2 separate regions of the Homo sapiens genome follow, and region 2 is linked to region 1. The links come from fine-mapping of genetic effects on gene expression. A gene starts in region 1. The other region holds a variant in brackets. All regions are shown on one strand. Distances are from middle to middle. Region 1 holds the start of CRACDL (CRACD like). Region 2 holds the start of LINC02611 (long intergenic non-protein coding RNA 2611).

The links. PIP is the estimated chance that this variant, and not a neighbour inherited with it, causes the effect.
Region 2: its variant is fine-mapped to the expression of CRACDL in whole blood (TOPMed, PIP above 0.99).

The regions. Positions count from the first base shown.
Region 1 is chr2:98,929,245-98,940,996 of GRCh38, reverse strand. It overlaps CRACDL (CRACD like), which reads left to right and starts at 4,772. Exons shown (of 10, transcript NM_207362.3): 1 at 4,772-5,059. RefSeq lists a silencer at 5,405-5,605.
Region 2 is chr2:98,761,292-98,773,043 of GRCh38, reverse strand. It overlaps LINC02611 (long intergenic non-protein coding RNA 2611), which reads left to right and starts at 1,146. Exons shown (of 4, transcript NR_126337.1): 1 at 1,146-1,425; 2 at 3,998-4,142; 3 at 4,258-4,433; 4 at 10,466-11,752. RefSeq lists enhancers at 1,804-2,304, 2,305-2,805. The variant T/C (reference allele first, on the strand shown) is at 5,360.

The sequences.
Region 1 (11,752 bases):
ATGCCCGGCTAATTTTTGTATTTTTAGTAGAGACGGGGTTTCACTATGTTGGCCAGGCTAGTCTCAAGCTCCCGACCTCAGGTGATCCGCCTGCCTCAGCCTCCCAAAGTGCTGGGATTACAGGCGTGAGCCACTGAGTCTGCCGCATACAGATCTTGTTAAAGAATTTTGTAGAACACTCCCAAGTTGAAAACAAGACAATACAGAAATGGTTTAAAATAATAAATCATGATGTATCACATAATGAAATATTAGTTATTAAAAACTTATATTTATAAAAACTACATTATCACAAGGGAAGATACTTGTGTATAATGTAGCTGAAAAAAACAGGATACAATCTTGTGTATTTGCCTTAATCTCAACTATGTACAAGCCATTTGAGTTTGCAGGCCAGCTTGAATCCCTTTTTTGGAAAAAGAAAAACTGGAAGAAAAACAATAAAATGCCAACAGTGATTGCCTCTGCGGTTGGAATTATTGGTGATCTTTCCTTCTTTCTTATTTTATGTACCATCCTGTTTGTTTTTCAGAGAATGTTTAACCCATTTATGCTGGAGGTTGCAATTTTCTTATGTGAAAAATCAGACCTTGGCCATGACCTTCAGCAGTAGGATGTAAATAACTCCCACAAGCTTAGCATTCCAATAATGGAACACTAGGCATTAATGGGCTCAAAGTAGTAAGGCCCAAGTGTGGGTGGAGACTGTATTTTTGTGGTTTAGGTCTGCATGGTTCTGTGAATTTCCTTGGCAGCACAAAAGGGCTTGTGTAGGAAGAGAGGAGGCTGGTGTATGGTTGGGGTTTCAACCAGGAAGGTGTTGGCGGGGGTGGGGGGGGACCAAGGGATGAGGGCACTGGGGGTGCTGGTAAGAGAGCAGTCAAGGGATGACCATGAGGCCCAGGGCTAGGCAGGGTGGAGGCTGGAGAGAGATGACTAGTGAGAAATGAGCAGTTGGAGCAGAAGGTCCTTGGATGGGGGAGGAGCAGAAGTTTAGGAAACAACGGGATCAAGACTAGGGTGGAAAAAAATTGGGAAGAGAGAGTGGGTGCAGTCTCATGCATTTGAGATACAGCAGTTTCAGGGTCATAATAGGCCATGGTGAAAGTTCATTGATTAATAAATATTGATCCAGCAGCTATTGTAAACCAGCACCGTGCTAGGTGCTAGACACAGATACAGACCCTGCCCTCCTGGAGGTTGTGCTCTGGTGAGGGACTCCAGTATGGAATAAAAAATAAATCACTCCAAAGTGTAATATGTTCTCTAAAGAAGAGGAGTAGGAGGGAAATACAGGTCAGGAAAAAAAGACCAAAGGAAGTATCACTGAAGCTAAGTCCTGAAAAATTAGTGGGAGTCAGCCAGGTGAAGGGTGGGGGCAGCTGGGGCTAAGCCCTCAGGGCAGGAAGAAGCTTGGGTTGTTCACAGAACTGGAAGAAAGCCAGTGTGGCTGGAGTGGAGGGAGCAGAGGGTGGTACTGAAAGGAAGCCCAGGAGATGTGGTCCTCTTAAGGAGTCTGGGTTTCACCCTAACTGCAGGGAAGCCAGGGAAGGGTTTTGAAACAGGGAAAGGACAGGGTCCAATCCCTATTGCTGGAGAAGGATCAGAGGGATGGTGGCTAAGATCTGGGTATTGCTGGACAGCCGCCTGCAGAGAGCCCCTCAGGAGTAGGGTCCCTGTGGCCTCTGGCAGTGAGGCAGCTCAATTCGACCTCTGCCACCATGGCTCACCTGGGCAATGGGCCTGTTGAGATATTGTTTCTTCCTAATTGGTTCCTGGCTGGCCCTTGACTCCAATCCTCTCCCCAGGTAGGGATGTCTGTGCCTATGGGGCCTGTATTTTCTGAACCTAAGTGAAGACAAGCAGATTGAGTGTCTGTGAAGACCCAAAAGCAGAACCCTGGGATGAACACTGTCCTGAAAATTGTCCCCGCTACCATCCTGGGTTAGAAAGCACACTGCCTTTGACTTCACCGTCTTCACCCCATTAATTACCAGCCTCTGGTTTGACTAAGTGAAGATTCAGGACTGATGATTAGCAATGATGATGATGGTGTTGGGAATAACTGAGTGAAGAAGCAAATGTAAATATTTTAAAGTGTAAATATCAAAAGTGTAAATACTCTTGCTTTCTGAGATCCCAAAAGATGCCTTCCTCTTAGTGTGGGAAGGGTTGATATTCCTTTCTTTTCTAAACTAAAAAATATTTTCAGTTTGCAGAGGTAGACATCATTTTCAGAAAGGCAGCTTTGCCCAGCCTTAAGTGCAGATTAGGGGTTCAAACCCTGGCTCTGCCACTTACTATCTGCATGCCCTTGGGCATGGTACTTGCCCTTCTCATGCTGAGTCTCCTCGTCTACCACATGGAGATAATAGCAGCATCTCGGTTGCAAAATCAGGGTAATGGCAGGTCTTAGCTCAGAGGGTCTGCTGGCAGGTGGATAATTTAAATGAGTGACTATTTGTAAATGGCTTAGATCCGTGCCCGGTTATTTGATAAAAGCATGTTCCCAGTGAGGTGCAATATATTTAGAAGTAGCATGGTCTTCTTTCTTTTGGCTTGTCAATGAGGTTCTCCTTCTCTGAAAGGGATGTGTTCAGGGGTAGCTGAGAGATTTTCTGGAGCCTCAAAAAACAACCAACCCCATGCTCTTGGCTTTCTGGTTGTCCATGCAGACTGCAAGAAACACTATGTGGGGTCTATGTTTCTTTTGCACTTTTGACAAATCCTTACTTGAACATTTTAGTCTTTTCTTAACCTGGCTTCAAGGCTTGATCCAAAAGGCATTAAGGAGGGGAAGAGCCTCCTTGACTGCCAGCCACTTGGCAGGGCCCTGGGAACCAGAGCTCTCACAGGAAGATGAAAGTCCCAGGGGTAGGGGAGGGGCACAGTTTCTTTCCACATTTTTAAAGCATGAAGGTGCTTGCTCTACCAGGCTCCAGATAATTTTCCATTTTCCCAACCTATTCACAAAATTCCCCACCAGTTTCTATTTTGAGTGTTGACACCATGTTCTCGGCCTTAACTAATCACCAGGAACCTCGGTTTTTGTCTTCTGAAAACCTCCAGGAACTTCAAAAGCCACCCACAGAATACAAATAAAGCCAGAGGTTTAAGATATTCTGGAAACGAAATTCTTAGGTAGAAAGGCAGTTTATGGAGTCCATAAATATTTAGTAGTTACAGCGGCAAAAACTAACATGATTTTGAAGAGCAAGGAGCAGAGGCTCAAGGTGGGAGAGGAGAGAGGGGAGTATAGTTTTTGCAGTTGTTCAGTTTAGTTTGAGGATTTTGAAAAAAACAAACACACAGACACCCAACAAACTCGTTGTCTCTGATTGTCATGAGTCACCCATTCATTGTGAATGCAGGTTATTAATTTGGGGGGGGGTTATAAGGCTGAATCACTATTTTTGTTCTTTTTATACAGGGAACTTAAAGCACTTAACCATCAAAAGAGGCTTTTACGTGAATAGCTTGTGGCCAAGGGATAACATTAAAAATTCAAAAAGGAAACTTCGTTTGATATGCCCAAGTAAATGGGAAACTGTCTTGGGCCTCGTTTCGCTCGATTCTTCTATCTGGGATTTTGAGCCCCTTGAAAGCCACAGGTGGAGAGAGCTCCTTCCGGGGTCCAGGCCCTCTCGGCCTCCGACAGCCGAGCAGCTCGGCTTTTCCAGGCCTCCAGTGTGCGCGGCGCTAGCCGTCGGACCCAGCGTCCCGCGGAGTAGCGCGGATTCCGCGTGATCCCCTCCAAACAATGCGGACCTCGCCGCTCATTCTGGCGTCCGGTGACACCCGAGACTCCCCGTCTGACGTTAGTATCATCTCTTCCAGCCTGGGTTGAAGGCGTCCCCTGAGGACTCGTCGCAGCCTGGGCTCCCTGCTGGGACGCGACTCCCGCGCCTCTCGCCTGCCTGGCCCTGGGCGTGCACCGCCGGGGAAGAGGCCGGGACGGGGTCGCCGGGCTGTGCCATCCGCAGACCAAAGCCGCGGCTCGGGCTCCGGAGGAGATTCGCTGGGCGACCACCCAAGGCAGCTCCCTCCGTGCGCGGTCTCCCTAAATGGACCAGCCCTGTCTTTACAAGAAAAAGGATTTTAAAAAAAGAAGAAAGAAAGAAAATAAAGAAAGGCGAGCGCAGCTGAGACGGCATCAGCTGCCTTTCTTCCCACACTCGCCGGTGTCACACCCATGAATCACCTCCAGACGGGGCGGCAGCTTCCCTAATTAGCCTGGAGACGCTCAGGACCCACAGGGTTATAAAACAACAACAATAACAAACTTTTACTTTTATTCAAATGCACACTTCCTTCCCTCGGCGCCCACGCCCGCCGCAGGCCACTGACTTAGAGGGCGGATCCGGAGGTCACCTGGAGTCCCGGGTCCCTCTCACCGACGCGCGCGGGTGCCCTGGGCCAGTCCCGGACTGACTTGCCACCACCTCCGGGTCTCCGGTGCCCCCCGGCCCTCCCGGAGCCCCGACAGCGCCGCTGCGCGGACAGGCCGAGGCGGGTCGGGAGCGGCGCGGGCTTGGGAGGGAGCGCTGGGCAGCCGGGCCCGCACCCCGATTGCCCTCCCCGCACCCCGATCGCCCTCCCGCCTCCCGCGGGGCGTCCAAGGCCCAGGCCGGCGCCTGCGCCCCCCGCCCCGAGGTCTCGGCCCCACTCCGCCGGGCCAGCTGCGGAGGCGGCGTTGGGAGCTGTGCGCCGCGGGGGAGGTGCGCGCGGCGGCCGGCGAGGGGAGCTGAGCGGCGTCCGCCCCCGCCGAGCCGAGCGGAGCCGAGCGAAGCCGGCGCGCCTGCAGCTGGGAGCTGGGAGCTGGGAGCGCGCCGGGCGCAGGGCCGGGCCGGCCGCGGGAGGGTAGTGTCAGCGCCCGCGTCCAGCTCTTCGGCCGCAGACCCGGGCTGTCTGGAGGCCGCGCGGCCACCTGCTGCGTCGCCCCGGCTTTGGGCTGGGGCTAGACGCGCACCGCGGCGGGAGCAGCCCCGGCTCGCCGCACCCCGCGGAAGGTGCCCTTCTCTGCGCGTCTCGCCGAGCCCGGGCCACGCTCCTGTCCCAGGTACCTCGAGGGGTTTGAAATCGCGTGTCCCAAGGCAGGCGTGGGTCGAAGGCGGGGTGGGCGCGGGGGCACCGGGCGGAGGTGGGGCGGGCCGGGGCTAGGGGGTCGAGGGCAGAGGCCGTGAAGCCAGGGGCCCCTCGGACCCGGAGAGGCGCCACCCCCGCCGCCGAAGCCCTGGGCAGCTCCTGCGGCCGAGGGGGAGCCGGACGCGCTCGTGCAAGTGCCCAAAGTTTCCCTTTGCTCACTTTGCTGGACCCAACTTTCCACTGTGAGGCAAATCCAGCAGTTTACGCGCCAGGAAAATGAAAGAGGAGGGAGAGAAGGTCCTGCTCGGTTGAAATTGCTAGCATACGAGGTCTTTATGCCCACTGTCTCCACACGCAGTTGCAGGGGAAAGGAGTGGACACATTCACGAACTGCCTTATGCTTTAGGTGATGGTTTATTTAACAGGTTTTAGGCTTTGATTACACGCCACCCGGGAGGGATTCTGGAGTTGATCTAAGAAGTGTTCACATTTTTAATCAACAAATATTTGTTGAACAGAAGCTTCATCATAGGCAAAGATTCGGTATGAAGTTCACATGTGATCAGAGCATAATAGTCACTTGCTTTTGAAATGCAAGTCAGAAGCAGTGCGGCTGTGTGAATTTGACTCCGTGTAGGTGCAAACCGCCTGCAGGCATCAGGTCCTGTTGACAGTTTTGAGCCAGGAAATCCAAGTGGAAGACAGGCAGCTGTGTTACCCTTTTAGAGCCAGCTCACACCTTCCCAAACTGGTCTTAAGGTATCCTACTAGGTTATTGGAGCCTGCAGGCTTCCTTCATTTGCATATACCATAGACTAGAATCTGTGTAGACCCCTGGTATTTTCCCTGGAGCTCGGTCCCACGGGCGCACACCTGGAATGATGGAGCACTGTGGTCATCCTAAGAACCTATTGAGGTTATAAAATTGTGAGGAGAAAGATATCTAGAGACAGTGTCGTGTGGAGCTGGTGGAGAAGGTTGAGCTGGGCTGGTTTCTGGGCTCTGCCCCTATGCTGTGCCATCTTGGAGTCTGAGGCAACAGGAAAAATCAGGAACACTGATCCTGTCTTTATTTAAAAATGTGAGATTTTGTACATTAGGGATTTTTGTATTTGTTTTGATGTTTTAAAATATTGTAATAAGGCATTTATCTGACTGCATTTTTGGTACCCCCTTAAATTTTGTGCCTGTAGTGAGTACCTGGCTTGCCTGAGTCTGATTCTGGACCTCCTCCACGAGTCAAGTTCTTACTCTCTAAGCATCTGTTTCCTCACTTATAAAATAAAGTGTACCATCCATGGATGCTGCGCAGCTCAGCTGCTGCATAGGATGCGTCATGTGGGGCTCACTAACGGGTGGCTGTCCTGCTGAGATCACTGCTCTGCTTGGCCCTCTTAGGCTAGTTAAGATGAATCTTGGCTGGGCGCGATGGCTCACACTTGTAATCCCAGCACTTTGGGAGGCCGAGGCAGGTGGATTGCCTGAGGTCAGGAGTTCGTGACCAGTCTGGCCAACGTGGTGAAGCCCTGACTCTACTAAAAATACAAAACAAAAATAGCCAGGTGTGGCGCCTGTAATCCAGCTACTCGGGAGGCCGAGGCAGGGGAATTGCTTGAACCAGGGACGTAGAGGTTGCAGTGAGCTGAGATGGCACCACTGCACTCCAGCCTGGGCAGCAGAGTGAGGCTCAGTCTCAAAAAAAAAAAAAAAAAAAAAGGATGAATCTTGACCAATCTCAGTGCACCATTCAGGGAAATGAGAGCAGTGATAGTGCTATGGTTTGAATGTTTGTGTCCCCCCAAAAATTCATATGTGGATTCCTAATCCTCAAGGTGATGGTATTAAGAGATGAGGCCTTTGGGAAGTGATAGGTCATGAATGGGCTTGGTGCCCTTATAAAAGAAGCGCAAGGAGCTCGCTCGTCCCTTCCACCATGTGAGGACACTGTGAGGAGGCGCCTTCTATGAGGAATGGGCCCCCACCAGACACCCAACCTGCCAGTGCCTTGATCTTGGACTTCCAGCCTCTGGAACTGCAAGGAATAAATGTCTGTTGTCTATGAGCTGCCCGGTTTATGGTATTTTGTTATAGCAGCTGAAATGGACTCAGCTGGCCAGCCCTCAGGGATGCTCTTGGTTAAATGAGAGAATAGATGTGAAGGTACCAGGCCTCCAGGAGGGTGGGTTTTCTGTGATGTCCTGGTGGGCCTGGATTTGACTTAGCTACCTTGCAGTCACTGGCTCTTCCCCTGCAGGCTGGCTCCGTGCCTTGTCATGCAGTTGCTTGTTGTGCACATAAATACTGCTTGTGTTGCAGGTGGACTCTCTGGGTGGAAACCTGCCCAGGGTTTATTGTGGAAAGGTGCAAAATTTTGTGTAAGTGAGCTTGATTTTGCTGTCCCTAGTGAAGTCCCTTGGTTCCCTTTTTCATATACTCAGTTCCCAGTGCATGGTTCTGTTTTTCTAGAGCCTAATTCAATGGTATTATTTCAGTCACTATTTAGCTTAAAGGTAGCTTCGTCCCTGGTGGGAGTCAGTCTCTCAGTCTTTCCACGTTACTCCTCGGGGACCCCTTTTCGCTACAAGTCACCCCTGGGCACCAGGAGAGGGTTGTAGTCCCATCAGAGCTTGAGGGGAGTGGCCCTGACTGGTCATCTGGTCCTCTTGCGGTGCCCCAGTGAGTCCCTTTCCCCTCCACATGGAGCCTCCGGCTCACATTTCCATCATTGTCCAGCTGGTGTCCCCAGGGTGAGCCACAGCGGGGACCTGGCTCTTCCATTGGCCCAGAGGTCCCCATGCTCTGAGGTCTCTTCTGGGCCCCTATTGGGCACCTGGGAGCCCGCCCAGGTTGTGCGGAACCGTACTAGGCCTCCATTTCTACTGTTCTGAGCTCGGCCTTCCCTGAGTTCCCACAGGAAGCAGGACAAGAACGCCCCCTCAGCCCCACCCCTGCTCCTCCAGGTGGGGTGCACAGCGGTAGGTGCTCAGTGCCTGGGTTCATGTCCCAGACCCAGAAGGCATTTTTCTACCTGTGGGGCAGGGCTGTTTCTTAGGTTCTGTCTTCTGTCCTCTGCACATCATGGCTTTGGGGAGAGCTCTAGGCTCCAGCTTCCAGGCTTTGCCCTTGATACATAAAAGGAAGTTTAAAATATCTCTGTATTCACCACTGTCTTGGGTAAAGTGTGCTAGGCCTTTTTATTACCTGAAAAAGACTGGGAGAGCCGTCGGGGCTGCTGGAGACTTCAGTCAGGGCTGGGAGAAGGCAAGGAAGGAGTAGCTGGCAGCGGCGTTGCGGGGATTGAATGGCTTTCTGCGTACACAGCCCGGCCCACTGTCATGGGGATGGGCGTCTTCCAAACCACCGTTCCTATTTATGCTGTTGCTGCCTCATCATCAGAGCAACCCCCTGTGTGCTTGGCACTCACTACAAGCCGGAAAGGTCCGAGTCATAATTGCTGCTTCTGGTGAATAAGATGAGCCCTTGTCAAGCCTGTACCTGCAAGCCTGAGCCCTGGATTTAGTTCACACTCAGTTCACACTGGATTTGGAAGGGGAGGTAATCAGGGGAAGCTTCTTGGAGGAGGTGGAACTTAAAGTAACAACTTGGCCACATGGATGTGAGATGCAAGAGAACTGCCTTTGAAAGGGAGACAGGCCGGCCCGGCCTGGTGTTCACAGGCCCACCTGTGGCTTGATGCTGGCTGGTGTCCCGCCGATCTCTTCTGTTGTCTAGATACCTGCAAACACCGGTACTGCTGGTGTCACCTGTGGGTAGGACAACACAGACAGCCAGCGTTCAAAATCCTTCTGTTTTCCCCAAACTGAACGGAAATCAGGAGAATTCTCATCAAATAATGCTCTTTCTAGATCTCTGTGTCTGGAAAATAACTTCAAAACTTTAGGTCAGATTAAGAGTCCTTAAGACACATTTATGATTTTGACAAATTACCTTGAAGATATTTGTATTGCTTTTAAGGGGGTCTAACCCATAATCCTGAGCCAAGTGGATAATGAACTAGAGATGCTGTTTCTGTCGGTGCCCAGTGAATTTAGCAGTGAAATGATGGGAAATGATAAGACAGGCATGTGATGTAACAGGGCACCTCCTGAGCAGCGTCAGCCACCAGCTTTTCACAGGCTCAGATACCATTCTGGAGGAGACTGCTGGTAGGAAGGATTCTCAGACATTTTTCTTATGATCTGGGTATCTGTGAAAGGAAATTATGGAAGTTCGTTTTGAAAAGTGCAGATGGAAAGGTATTTATTTGCTCAGGCCTTCTCCTGGCTGTGGTGTGTGGGGCTGGTTTTTAACTGTGTGTAGCTGAAGAACTTCCAGAAATATTTGCCTTAACCTCTGAGGTCCATACACCAGTCTCTCCATGGTTTCTGCCCTCAAATTCTCATGTCTGTGGGAAGCACCAGAACCATTAGCTGCGGGGTGTGCAGTTTCCAAGAAACTACTCTCGGAAACACTGCCCCATATGTGGGAGGAGAAAATGTCAGAGAGGTTGCCTTCTTTTTAAAGCAGTTGGTCCAGTCAAGGTCAGGGGAGTCAGGCTCTAGTGTCTTTTTTTTTTTTTTTTTTTTTGAGATGGAGTCTTGCTCTGTCGCCCAGGCTGGAGTGCAGTGGCGCGATCTCTGCTCACTGCAACCTCTGCCTCCTGGGTTCAAGGGATTCTCTTGCCTCAGCCTCCTGAGTAGCTGGGATTACAGGTGCCTGTCACCACACCTGGCAAATTTTTGTATTTTTAGTAGAGACGAGGTTTCTCCATGTTAGCCAGGCTGGTCTCGATCTCCTGACCTCAAGTGATCCACCCACCATGGCCTCCCGAAGTGCTGGGATTACAGGCGTAAGCCACCATGCCCAGCCCAGGCTCTGGTTTCTGCTGTGCCACTTAGAAGTCCTGCAACCTCAGTCACCCCTTAGATGGGGTGGGGGGGTGGTAGACACACACACACACACACACACATACATGAGCATTACATGAGGTGCTGTATGACAAACATAGAAAATGCTCCATAAATTATTTATAGGTATTACTCTCTTATTGTCTTTCTTGTAAGACGGTTAAAGGGCATTTGTTATAACTACCAGTTAGGACCCCTACTAATAATGTTCCCTAAAGCAATAAAGGGTCCTTCCATAACTGAGATCTGATGGCATTTAAGGAAAATGAGCATAACTGCCATACACAGTGCTCCTGAGCACAGCTGCTGGTGGAAGCTGTCATGTGGGGAACAACCTTGACGCAATTTAGAACACACAGGGAGAAGCGAGGGGACGGAAGAGGGGTAGGTGACACAGGACAGGGGTGGGACAGAGATGGGGTAGGTGATATAGGTAGGATAGGGTGGGGTCAGAGATGCAGTAGGGGACACAGGACAGAGGGTGGGGATGGGGATGGAGTAGGGGACACAGGACAGAGGGTGGGGACGGGGATGGGGTAGGGGACACGGTACAGAGGGTGGGGACGGGGATGGGGTAGGGGACACGGTACAGAGGGTGGGGACGGGGATGGGGTAGGGGACACGGTACAGAGGGTGGGGACGGGGATGGGGTAGGGGACACGGTACAGAGGGTGGGGATGGGGATGGGGTAGGGGACACGGTACAGAGGGTGGGGACGGAGATGTGGTAGCTGGAAAGCATCCGTGTGTCCTGTCTTGCTCTGCAGCATCCGCCTTCCCCACTAATGTGTGAGGAGAAGGACCTGACTTGAAGCACTTGCATGGGGGCCACGGATGGGAGGTGCCCTGGGCCAAGACATACGCCCCGTCGTGTTGGAGAGACACAGGGATGGTTCTGCCCTGCCACGTCTGGGCTCACTAGTGAGTGTGTTGAACAGCCTTGGATTCAGAGGACCAGCATTGGGTCACCAGTGGGGAAGCGAATTTTGAGGGAATATCAGGTTCCTCTGGGTAACTGGTCCCGTGCATACAAATGTATCGTGGTATCGAGCACCTTTTCCATGTCGAATGTATCGTGAGTCTTTGCTGCCCAGCTGCCTTGGGTCCATGTGGTGCTTCATGAATACTAGGTGTCTTAGAGCTCGTATCTCCTCCTCTGTTTGATATACACCTGCTCTACTTCCTATTTATCTCTACTTGACATATCCTATGAGATTCACCCATTGCGTTTGTTGTTTTTTTCTTCAAAATTGAATGTTCCCAAACAATTTGACAAATGCCCCTTATTGAAGACACTAAACTCGTCCCTGAGAATGGGTTTTGAGATTGGGCATAGTTTTGTGAAGCCATCATCCCATCCAGATGGGGGAGCCTGCCGTGCCTGGGGCATTCTGGGACCAGGTGTGGGTCTGTAGAGGTTCGCGAAGCTTTGCTTACACTCACTTCAGGTCCACAGACACTGAACTGTGTGCTCAGGGATGGTTTCTTCCCCTGGCTCCTCAGGACAGAGACATGACCAGAGAGGCGGCTCCCCCGTCCCACTGTAGATGCTGCTTGGAGTCTGAGGCATACTGGGCTGCTCTCTGGGCTCTTGGTCTGATTACAACTCTGCGACTACACACAAGGTCTGCACCAGACAGGTAAGGGAGTAGGTGCGGTGGGCACAGGGGCCACACCAGGTCCAAGGGCATCGGCCCAGACCGTGGCTCTCGGGTTCTCTCCCTTCTGTGCAGGCGGCATGGGAAATACCGCAAGCACTCT
Region 2 (11,752 bases), 170 kb after region 1:
AGAGAGAAGAGGTTCATTGGGCGGGGAGACGGCTGAAGTTGCCAAGAGAGAGCTCAAAGGGAGGCAGGGCTGAGGCCAGAAACCCTAAGGGATGGATCAAGGAGAGGAATTGAGGAAGGACAGAGAGCAGGAGCATATGGACAGAGGAGAGGCAGAAGCCGGGCTCTGCAGGGCTGTGGAAGCTGGAGGAGTAGGTTGTCCCAGAGTCCCGTACCCCTGGGGATCCAGGAAGGTAAGAGGGAAGTCAGCAACAAGGAGGTGGGAGAGGTTCCTCGGCATGTGGGGCGGAAGCCAGACTGTGGTGATTGAGAAATGTGTAGGGGTGGAAAAGTGGCTGCAAGGCACGACCACAGGCGGGAGAGCCGACTGTGAAATCTGCAGGAATTTTCTGAGCCAGGCGCCAAACACAGCCAGTGTTAAAAATTAAATGATGAAAACTTACAGTTAAATAGGTTACATAGAGACAAAGCAATAAATACTGAAAACTCATCTCTTCCTAGTTTGTTACCTTCTACCAATAGCTATTCCCCTGAGATAATGTCCATCCATTGTGTCCCTGTGGTGAGAATGCTATATGTGAGTGATTACTCACGTCTATGCATCTCTTCCAACTCTGCGTGTCGTGTTATCTCACTGGTGGCTTGAAATTGGCTGTGATGGGAGTATTTACACCACAGAAACCAGCAAATTCCTCAAATCAGACCTTTTTATTCCCAGAGAGTCAGTTGTGAAACGTTTACCAGCACCACTGGAGGAGTGAGATCAGAGCACTTTCAGTAAGAGAGCAGTGGCACGTTAGCAAATGGAAGGGAGAAAAAGACAGCAGCAAACGTGGACAGGTTTGCGGGCTTTGTGGCAGGGAAGTGAGCGCGTTGCCTCTGATGACTTTCATTTCTCTCAGTTACACTGAGGTGAGGCCAACTGCTCTGTGTGTGGAAGCCAGAGAAGAAAGCAGCACAGAACAGATGCAAACCAAGGAGGCTGGAAGATAAGAGCAGAGCCATCAGGACACGAGCCCCTCGCGGGTATGAAACAGGAGTCGTGGGAGCAAATTAGTAGGTGCACTGCATGGAGGGACGGAAGGGGCAGGGAGGAGCATCTGAATGTAAGATTTCAGAGAAGCTCATTTTGTCAGCATTTCAGAGCTTCCTGTGTGCAGCATGGATCTAAAGCTGGTGGATGCAGGGGGGTGAACAAGACAACATCTTCACTTCCTGCATGCTGATGGCAGAAGTGAGACATCAGCGAAGAAACATCACGATCACCAAATTACGATGAACACCATGGAGGAAACAAAGGACACTGTGACACCAAGGAAGGAAGGGAGGTTACTTTTCATAGTGGCTGTAAATAGAACTGAAGGCTGAAAAACAGCTGTTAAAATGGCTTGTTTGTTTGAAGATGAATGAGAGTACACAATAAAAGGTAATTCTCCCTCCCATCCCCAATGCCAGCTTCCCTGTTTCTCTCCCCAGAAGCAGCCATGGTTCATCACATCCATTTCCAGAGGTATCCTAGGAGCAAGCTGTATGAGGAACCGGGGAAAGAGGAGCATGTGCAAAGGCCCTGGGGTGGAAAGGGCCTGCTGTGCTCTGAGCTGCAGCAGAGCTTCTCAAGCCTTAATTTGCATTTGAATCACCCAGGGATCTTGCTGAAATCCTGATTCCTGATTCAGTAGGTCTGGAGAGGGCTTGAGATTTCTAACAAGCTCCAGGTAATGCTGAGGTGCCTGATCCAGATCTCACTTAGAGTATTAAATAAAGTCCTAGGGGATCGTTAGAGATCAATCCAGCCAGAAATGTCATAGGAGAGGGAAGAACAGGTCAAGACAGGGCTGCACAGACAGGTGGGGCGGCTCAGTCGGGGTCTCTGTGCAGTAAGAAGCGTGGGTGTTATTCTAAGTGCGACAGGAACTCACTGAAAAGCTTTGTGCAGACTGGGGTTGGGAGTGGCGTTACATGATCTACTTATTCTTTCTAAATCACTCTATCTGCTGGTTGGGCAGGCAAAGTGACAGTGGGAGATCCACTGGGAGGCTACTGCACAAATCTCAGCCAGAGGTGACAGTGACAGGACCCATGTGATGACCGGGAAGATGGACGGAAGTGGGCAGACCCCAGGGGTATTTTTTTTTTTTTTTTTTTGAGACGGAGTCTTGCTCTGTCACCCAGGCTGGAGTGCGGTGGCGCGATCCTGGCTCACTGCAAGCTCCGCCTCCCAGGTTCACATCATTCTCCTGCCTCAGCCTCCTGAGTAGCTGGGACTACAGGCGCCCACCACCACGCCCGGCTAATTTCGTGTGTGTGTGTGTGTGTGTGTGTGTGTGTGTGTGTGTGTGTGTGTTTGGTAGAGATGGGGTTTCACCGTGTTAGCCAGGATGGTCTCGATCTCCTGACCTCATGATCCGCCCACCTCGGCCTCCCAGAGTGCTGGGATGACAGGCGTGAGCCACCGCGCCCGGCCCCTAGGGGTATTTTTAAGGTGGAACCGAAAGAACTCATGGATGGGTTGGATATGGGGAGTGAGGGAAAAGGAAGCATCAAGGACGCCTCTTGGGGTTGTGTCTTGAGCAAGCGAGCAGCCTGGGCCAGCATTTACTGAGGCGGAGGGAGGAGCAGGGAGATTGAGAAGCCTGCACGTCACCAAGCAGAGATGTCAAGAAGACCTCGGGGCGGGGGTGGGGGGGGGGGGCGGGGGGCAGGGGCGTGGGCATGTGTGAGGCTGGGGCTCCGAGGAAGGTCTTGGCGTGGAATATAAGTTGGGAGTTGTCAGTAGAGGCATTTTCCAAGGCTATGAGAATGTGCTGTAGAGAAGAGCAGGAGCTCTAGGATGAACCCTGATGGGCATGATCCCTAGGGATTGGGTAGAAGAACAAGCGACCAGAGGGGCGCGGAGGGAGGCTGCAGGCGGCTTTGCCAGCAGGATTTGAAATGAGGAGATTTTATCAGGGCTAACTCAAAGGGTTTGCATTTCACCTTTTGCCCCCTCTTGCATAAATGGCGTCATTTGAAAAGAGAAGAGACGGGAAGGAGGGGGAGTCAGGAACGCGGGCGAAGCGCATCTGCCTGGTTCTGGTGAGACCAGCCCGGCAACTGTCAAGTCATCCCTGCTTAATAACACCTGCTGGAAGGACAAAGGAAAGAGCTGCTGGCACCGAGTCACATGTCCACACAAACCACAGAGCGGGCCGTAGATGCCAAGCCCTTCCCCTTCCCACCCTGTACCTGTTCTTCATGTTAATCTATTACTCTAATAATTTATTCATTGTGTAGCAAATGATCATTTTCCTATCATTTGTTTATTACTATTTTTACTTTCATTATCACGTTAGATTTTCACACATGGGAGCATATGGGGGACATATTTGTTTATTAGTTTATAACCTAAAATGAATATTTTATACAGGAACATTTTAAACAGAGGCAGAAAAACCCTTAACCCAATTTTATCTTATGCTAAAATTTCATTATCACCAATTCTCAGGCCTCCAAGCACTGTGCAAACAATCCTCGAGGAATGGGTGTTATCAATTATTAATAACTATTAAATTAGCATGGAGTTTGATTTTCCCCTAAGTATGTTTCATAACTGCAGAGCAGAGAAAGAGCCTCTGCTCCCTTCCGGGTCTCCTGTTCAAATAAACCTGAACCTGGCCCAGGCACCCAGGCATCTTGGAGTGGCCAGCAGTGAGCCCACGGCTGTGCCTCTGCCCTGCAGGGCACCCGGGGCCTGGAAATCCTCCGGGGTGGAAGGATGAACCCTTCTCCCGGGGAATTTCTGGCAGGTGCATGTGATCTTGATATTCTCTGCAAGTGGCAGAAGGAGCTTGTCCCCCTCACCATCTGTTACGGGCTGAATTCTGTCCCTCCAAGATTCAAATGTTGAAACCCTAACCTCCAGACATCCACAATGTGACTGCATTTGGAAATAGGGCCTTTAAAGGTGACTAAATTAAAATGGACTGGTCCTTACTTCAATATGACTGCTCTCCTTATAGGAAAAAAATTTGGACACAGACACACACAGAGGGATGACCACGTGGAGATGCAGGGAGAGGATAGCAGCTACAGGCCAGGGCGAGAGGCCTCAGAGGAAACCAGTCCTGCTGACTCTTTGAACTCGGACTTCCAGCCTCCAGAACTGTGAGAAAATAAATTTCTGTTTTAAGTCATGTGGTCTGTGGTATTTGCTTTGGCAGCCAACACAAACTAACATGCCATCTGCACCCTTCCCTCCCACCGTGTCTGATGCCCTTAGGAACCACTGTCTTCCTTTATCCCAGGATGTCTGCAAGGAAGAAAATGTCCTTTTTCTAGCATTTAGAGGCCACCAACATTGAATAACCACACTGGGGTAGACACAGCGGCGAAGAGATTCCTGCTGTTCCCATCACAGCAGCCTTGGAGATGAGAAGACAGATGGATCTGACCAGAGTGAGTCCCAGCCCGACCTTCTCCCACACACTCTACACATCAGCTATCAAGACTGAGCCAGCCTTGTGAGGGCAGAGTGGGAGGGAGATGAGGCCCAAGGTTCTTAGAATTCACCTGGCCTCATCAGGACCTTCAAGATCTTCCTCTCTTCTCTGCTACCAAAACTGTGTGAGGGGGAAAAAAAGCCAGGGTAAGATTGGAAATTCAGCCACCCACATCCTTGCAGTGACTAACAGCTGTTAAGAGACATTTTATTTGTGTTTTGTTTTGTGACAGAGTCTCCCTCTGTCACCCAGGCTGGAGTGCAGTGGTGCAATCTCAGCTCACTGCAACCTCTGCCTCCTGGCTTTAAGTAATTCTCCTGCCTCTGCCTCCCGAGTAGCTGAGATTACAGGGGCCCGCCACCACACCCTGTTAATTTTTGTATTTTTTAGTAGAGACGGGGTTTCACCATGTTGGCCAGGCTGGTCTCAAACTCCCGACCTCAGGTGATCTTCCTACCTTGGCCTCCCAAAGTTCTGGGATTACAGGTGTGAGCCACTGTGCCCAGCTAAGGGACATTTTAATAAACCCCAAACTGCAAACAGCCTTAAGCTAAAAAATGGTATTCTGAGCATGTATTCTCAGATAGGAAGGTTTAGAAGAGCCCAGCGAAGCTGGCTTAGTGCCCTTCAAGTCACCCCAAAAGAGCTAGCTGCCTGACTGAAGCCAGAGCCTGCCCTCCTTTTAATGTGTACAGCATCTCACGGACTGCCCTGTTTACAGCACCTCTTACGGTTAGATGTGGCCACCACAAGGATGCTCTGCTGTGTTCATGGACAGCATAGCCATGGGGGGGACACGGGCTCTGGGGTCAGATTTGTTTCTGTTTGTGTCTCAGATCTGCGACTTAATATGTGTGACCTCAGCGAGTTACTTATTCCTCC[T/C]GTGCCTCAGTTTCCTCATATGCAAAGTGGGATAATAATGGCAACTCCCACATAGGGTTTGCTGAGGATTAAATGAGTGAGTACACGACTGTAGCACGATGTAGGAGTGTTTAATGGCATTATCGTCATGATTAGCTGTGTGGGCCTTGGCTTCCCATCTGTAGCATAGAGCTACCAATACCTACCTATGGCATATTGTTACTTTGGGGATTAAACGAGACGCTGAATGACAAGCACATGGCATATAGGTGCAAGTGTTTGTTCCTTTCCTGCTTCTACCATTTTTTTTCCCGAGACAGAGTCTTGCTCTGCCGCCCAGGCTGGAGTGCAGTGGCTTGATCTCAGCTCACTGCAACCTCCACCTCCCGGGTGCAAGCAATTCTCCTACCTCAGCCTCCTGAGTAGCTGGGATTACAGGCGCCAGCCACCACATCTGGCTAATTTTTGTATTTTTGGTAGAGACGAGGTTTCACCATGTTGGCCAGGCTGGTCTCAAGCTCCTGACTTTGTGATCCACCTGCCTCAGCCTCCCAAAGTGCTGGGATTATAGGCATAAACTATCGCGCCCAGCCTGCCCCTTCTACTATTTTAAGGAACACTGGTGATTCAGTTAACATCTCATCTGGCAGGAACATTCATTGATACCAACATCCTCAACATCTAACCGAGTTGAGTAACCAGAATAACTACCTCCAGGGTCATGCTCTGAGGATTCCAGCTTTATCTGTAGTGAAACTTTCTCTGACAGCCTGCTGATTTCCCCTTCCCAGATACAAAGTCCTTTTGATCACTTACTATGAGTCAGACACGTTCTGAGCTTTATCTCCTTTAATCCTCACCATAACACCATGAGGTAGATATCATCATCCCTGTTTTATAGATGAGAAAAGTTGAGCGTAAAAAGGTTAAAAAAAACTCCAACACTTTGGGAGGCCGAGGTGAGTGGATCACCTGAGGTCAGGAATTCGAGACCAGCCTGGCCAACACGGTGAAACCCCGTCTCTACTAAAAATACAAAAAAATTAGCCATGCGTGGTGCTGGGAGCCTGTAATCCCAGCTACTCGGGAGGCTGAGGCGGGAGAATTGCTTGAACCTGGGAGGCGGAGGTTGCAGTGAGCCAAGGTTGCACCATTGCACTTCAGCCTGGGCAACAAGAGCAAAACTTCGTCTCCAAAAAAAAAAAAAAAAGGTTGAAGAAACTTGTCCAAGGTCACATTGCTGGTGCAGGTCACACCCCTGTCATAAAACCAGGGGATTTCCGACTCCCAAGCCCAGCCTTGAACCTCTGTGGTTTCCAGAACCAGAGCTGATGGGGAGCAGCTGATACCATAGAAGCTGTCACAGGCAGGCATGGGGACAGGAAGGAGAGCAGACGGTGGAGTAGCAGAGTGTCCCAAGCTAGTCCAGGAGGGGCAAAGGATCCTATGGAGACAAAGAGGGACTGATCATCATTTTGAGCCAGGCCCACCCACTGTCCTCCCTTCCTCATCCTTGTTCAGGTGCTGTCTCTTTCTGTTTTCCGAACATTGCCAACAACTTTGTTTAAAAACGGGCTTTATTGTGATGTATTTCACACACCGTACGATTCACCCATTTACAGTGTACCACGGAGTCGTTTTTTAATATATTCATGGTTGTGTATCCACCACTACAATCAGCAGTGCATTATCATTGCCCCAGATGTCATTAGAACACCATCATTACCCCACACTAGCCACTGTGCCCCAGTACCCCCAGCCCCAGGCAGCCACTAATCTACTTTCTGTCTTTGCAGACTTGCCTATTCTGGACATTTCATATAAATGGAATGATACAAATGTATGGTCCTTTGGGACTGATGTCTTTCACTTAGCACAATGTTTTCAAGGCCTAGTTTTAAAGTAAATTTAAAAATGGTTAAAGGTCAATGTGTAGTGCTTGGCACAAAGTAGAGAGGCTCAGTAAATTCTTATTGAATTGAAATACAATTTTTTTTTTTTTTTTTTTGAGATGGTGCTTCACTCTGTCACCCAGGCTGGAGTGCAGTGGTGCAATCTTGGCTCACTGCAGGCTCGACCTCCCGCATTCAAGCGATTCTCCTGCCTCGGTCTCTTGAGTGGCTGGGATTACAGGCGTGCACCACCATGCCCAGCTAATTTTTGTATTCTTAGTGGTGACGGGGTTTCACCATGTTGGCAGGGCTGGTCTCGAATTCCTGACCTCAAGTGATCCGCCTGCTTTGGCCTCCCAAAGTGCTGGGATTACAGGCTGAAATAGAATTTCCGATCATAAGTAATTGACCCGAGTCATCAATAAAAGGCTACATTATATTTGTCACATTCTTTTTTTTTTTGAGACAGGATTTCACTTTGATATGCAGACTATAGTATAGTGGTGCCAACTTGGCTCACTGCAGCCTCAACCCCCTGGGCTCAAGCAATCCTCCTGCTTCAGCCCCCCAAGTAGCTGGGACCACAGGTGTGTACCATCTTGCCTGGCTAATTTTTGTATTTTTTGTAGAGACAGAGTTTCACCATGTTGCCCAGGCTGGTCTCAACCTCCTGAGCTCAAGGGATCTGCCTGCCTTGGCCTCTCAAAGTTTTGGAATTACAGGCATGAGCCACTGCACCCATCCCATCCCATTTTTTTTTTTTGAGATGGAGTTTTGCTGTTGTTGCCCAGGCTGGAGTGCAGTGGCGCAATCTTGGCTCACTGCAACCTCCGCTTCCCAGACTCAAGCAAGTCTCCTGCCTCAGCCTCCCGAGTAGCTGGGATTATAGGCATGCGCCACCATGCCCGGCTAATTTTGTATTTTTGGTAGAGACCAGGTTTCACCATGTTGGTCAGGCCGGTCTCAAATTCTTGACCTCAGGTGATCCACCTGCCTCGGCCTCCCGAACTGCTGGGATTACAGGCATGAGCCACCACACCTGGCCCATCACATTCTTTAAAAAGCGGAGAACTGATTAACACATTCTTGAAAATGTGGAGCAAATGTTGCATGACCAAGTGTTTCTTAATCAGTTTCCTGAAATTGCAGCTGTCTTCTTTCAATTCCCATAAAAGTGCTTTAACATTTTTTATACTAATACTGTAGTTCCTCAAATTTTGACTTCTGAGCACCAATAAGGAAATGTGGAGAGAAGGGACATTGCTACACAGTTGGTAGGAATGGAAATTAGTATAACTATCATGGAAAACAGTATGGAGCTTCCTCAAAAAATTAAAAATTGAACTACCATACACATCCAAAGGAAATGAAATCAGTATATCGATTGGGGGTGCTGGCTCAGACCTGTCATCCTAGCACTTTGGGAAACTGAGGTAGGAGGATCATTTGAGTTCAGGGGTTCAAGTCCAGGGGTCTCCCTATGTTGCTCAGGCAGGTGGATCACCTGAGGTCAAGAATTTGAGACCAGCCTGACCAACATGGTGAGCAACATAGGGAGACCTCATTTCTACTAACAATTTAAAAATTAGCTGAGTTTGGTGGTGCACACCTGTGGTCTCAGCTACTCAGAAGGCTGAGGCAGGAGGATTGCCTGAACTTGGGAGGTCGAGGCTGCAGTGAGCCCTAAGCATGCCACCGCACTCCAGCCTGGATAACAGAATAAGATCCTGTTTCAAAATTTTCTTTTTGATTGATTTCTGAAAAGAAATCAGCATGGCAAAGAGTTATCTGCACTTACATGTTCACTGCAGCATTATGCACAATAGCCAAGATATAAAATCAACCTATGTGTGTATCAATGGATAAATGGATTTTTAAAATGTGGTATATAAATGCAATGAAATGCTATTCAGCCTTAGAAAACAAGGGAATCCTGTTATTTACAACAACGTGGATGAAGCTGTGGACATTTTGCTAAGTGAAATAAGCTAGGCACAGAAAGGGAAATACCACATTATTTCATTCATAAGAGAAACCTAAAAACCTCAAACTCATAACAGCAAAGTGGAATGGTGGTTAACAGGGAGTCAGGGCAGAGGTGATGGGGAATGCCTTTAATGGCCAGAGAATACCAATTTTCAGTTAGGCAGAAGTTCAAGAGGTCTATTATACAGCACGGTGTCTATAGTTAATAACAATGTATTGTATGCTTGAAATGTGCTGAGAGTAGATTGCATATGTTAATTAGTGTGATTTAGTCATTTCACAATGTAAACATATATAAAACACGTAGTACATCATAAATATATATAATTTCTATTTGTCAATTGAAAAACAGTCGTCTGGACCTGCTTCCTGTCACATAGGTCAATTTGCATCTTTTTTTTTTTTTTTTTTTTTTTTTGAGACTAGCGTCTCACTCTGCTGCCCAGGTTGGAGTGCAGTGGTGCCATCCGGGCTCACTGCAGCCTTGAACTTCTGGCCTCAGATGATCCTCTGGCCTCAGCCTCTCATGTGGCTGGGGCCATATGTACTCACCACACCACCTGGCTAATTTTTAAAGTTTTTGTAGAGCTGGGTCTCTTGTTAGTTGCCCAGGCTGACCTCAAACTCTGGGGCTCAAGCGATCCTCCTGCCTCAGCCTCCCAAAGCCCTGGGATTACTGGTGTGAGTTGCCACACCTGGCCTAATCTGTGTCTTTATCAATACTATAGGAAACGAAAAAGAAAAAACAAAGAACTAAACAAACTACCCCTTAGACTCAAATAGCCAATTACTGAAACTGAATTTGACTCGCGGATTCTGGTTACTTGTGCATATAGCCCAGGTTTCTTTGGGACCCCAGGGCTTGTCATCAAAGACAAAGTATCTAGTTGAATGGGGGAGATCATTAGGAGGCAGTGGCAAGCCCCAGAAAAGAAAGTGTCCCACCGTTGGGAGGCACATGGGGAGGCGGGTGGGAGTTCAGTCACGCCTGGCAGAGGATGTATGGAGGCAGGTCCCTCATGCCTTTAACTGCTCCACTGCTGCCTTACAACAAAGGAGAGACCTTCCAGACCCTCATCTGGCATCCTTCCCCTCTTTTCTCCTGAGCCCTGACATTCTGGCAATGCTTCGGCAACACAGAAGATAAAGCGTGGAGAGGGAGACTCAGCCACATTTTCTTACAGATGAGGGTGTGTGGCTGGAAAAGGGCCATTATCGACTCCTGTTCTCGCTTCCCCTCCTCTCTCAGAGTCTGGAGAACTTCGAGAAAAAAGGAGGAGGACACAAAAGGAAATAACAAAAAAGATGCATCCGGAGCAACTATGAGGATGGTAAATTGGTGTCTAATTCTGAAAATCATAATTGGTATAAATGCTATGTACTGTGGAAGGAGGGATGAAGGGTAGAGGGAATAAAAAAGAACATGAAGTTAGAATCCTTGGCATGAAAGCCTGCCATTTATACAAGCAAACAAACAAGATCAGGGACTATCAACTGGCTGGCTGAATTGGACCAATAGGCAGGTTTATTCAGCCCCACACTTCAAAAATTAGGAGATCTCCAAATTAAAATCTGGGAATCTGACCTTTTGTAACAAATCAGAGGATTTGCAACACCAAGAGCATCATCACAGGCAACGACCAGCTTGGATGGGCAGCGGCTGCCCCTGCAGGTGGGTCAGGTGCTCTTCCGTTGGACACAGTCTCCACCACTCCCTGTCGCTTGCTCCTTGCTCCCCATCAGCATAACTGTTTGGGCCTTATAGCATATGCATTTATCACTCCCTACTAGGACGTCCACAACATGAAATGAGAGAACGATTTGGTAAGTTCAACAAAAGGCATATTATGCAGCCACCATACATTCTTTGTGGAAAGAGAAGTGGCATAAATCAATTCATAAATTATCTCAAGTTGTTTCCTCTGGAGTCCTGGGCTGGCTGTTGGATGAATTCATCTGTCTTCTAGCAGATGGACAAGAAAATTGAATTGTAGTGGCCCATCAGGTGTCGATCGCAGCCTCTGGGTCCGTGTAGGTGAGCCCTCACCACAGAGAGAATGAGAGCTGGCTCTAGGACGGGGTGTTGATCTGTGCACAGCTGCCCGGGAAAGGGCCTAGAGAGAGGAGCTATGGGTCCTGCACTGACATCAGCCTTGAACATGAGGCTGGCGTGGCAGCGGCGGCGGGGTGGGGGGGGACATGAATAATTCATATCGCAACCAGATTGATGCTCAGTGAGCTTCAATAGGAATGAATTACCTTGTGTGCATTTCCTGCCTAAATGTCAGTGTATCTTTTCACAAGCGCCTGGGACGGGTTTATGAATAGGTGCATTCTCTGATGCCTCTGCTTTAGGCAAGGCAGTTTCAGAATCTTGGCTGAGTTTCCAACTTCTGACTTGCTATTTACAAACTGTAATCATAAGATTTCAAGTGACACATGACTGAAAAAAAAAAGCCCTTACTCAGGAGAAATCTGGATGGAAATGGAACAATGGTTTTGAATGTATCTGGATCATGAAATGAAAGTCAGGAGG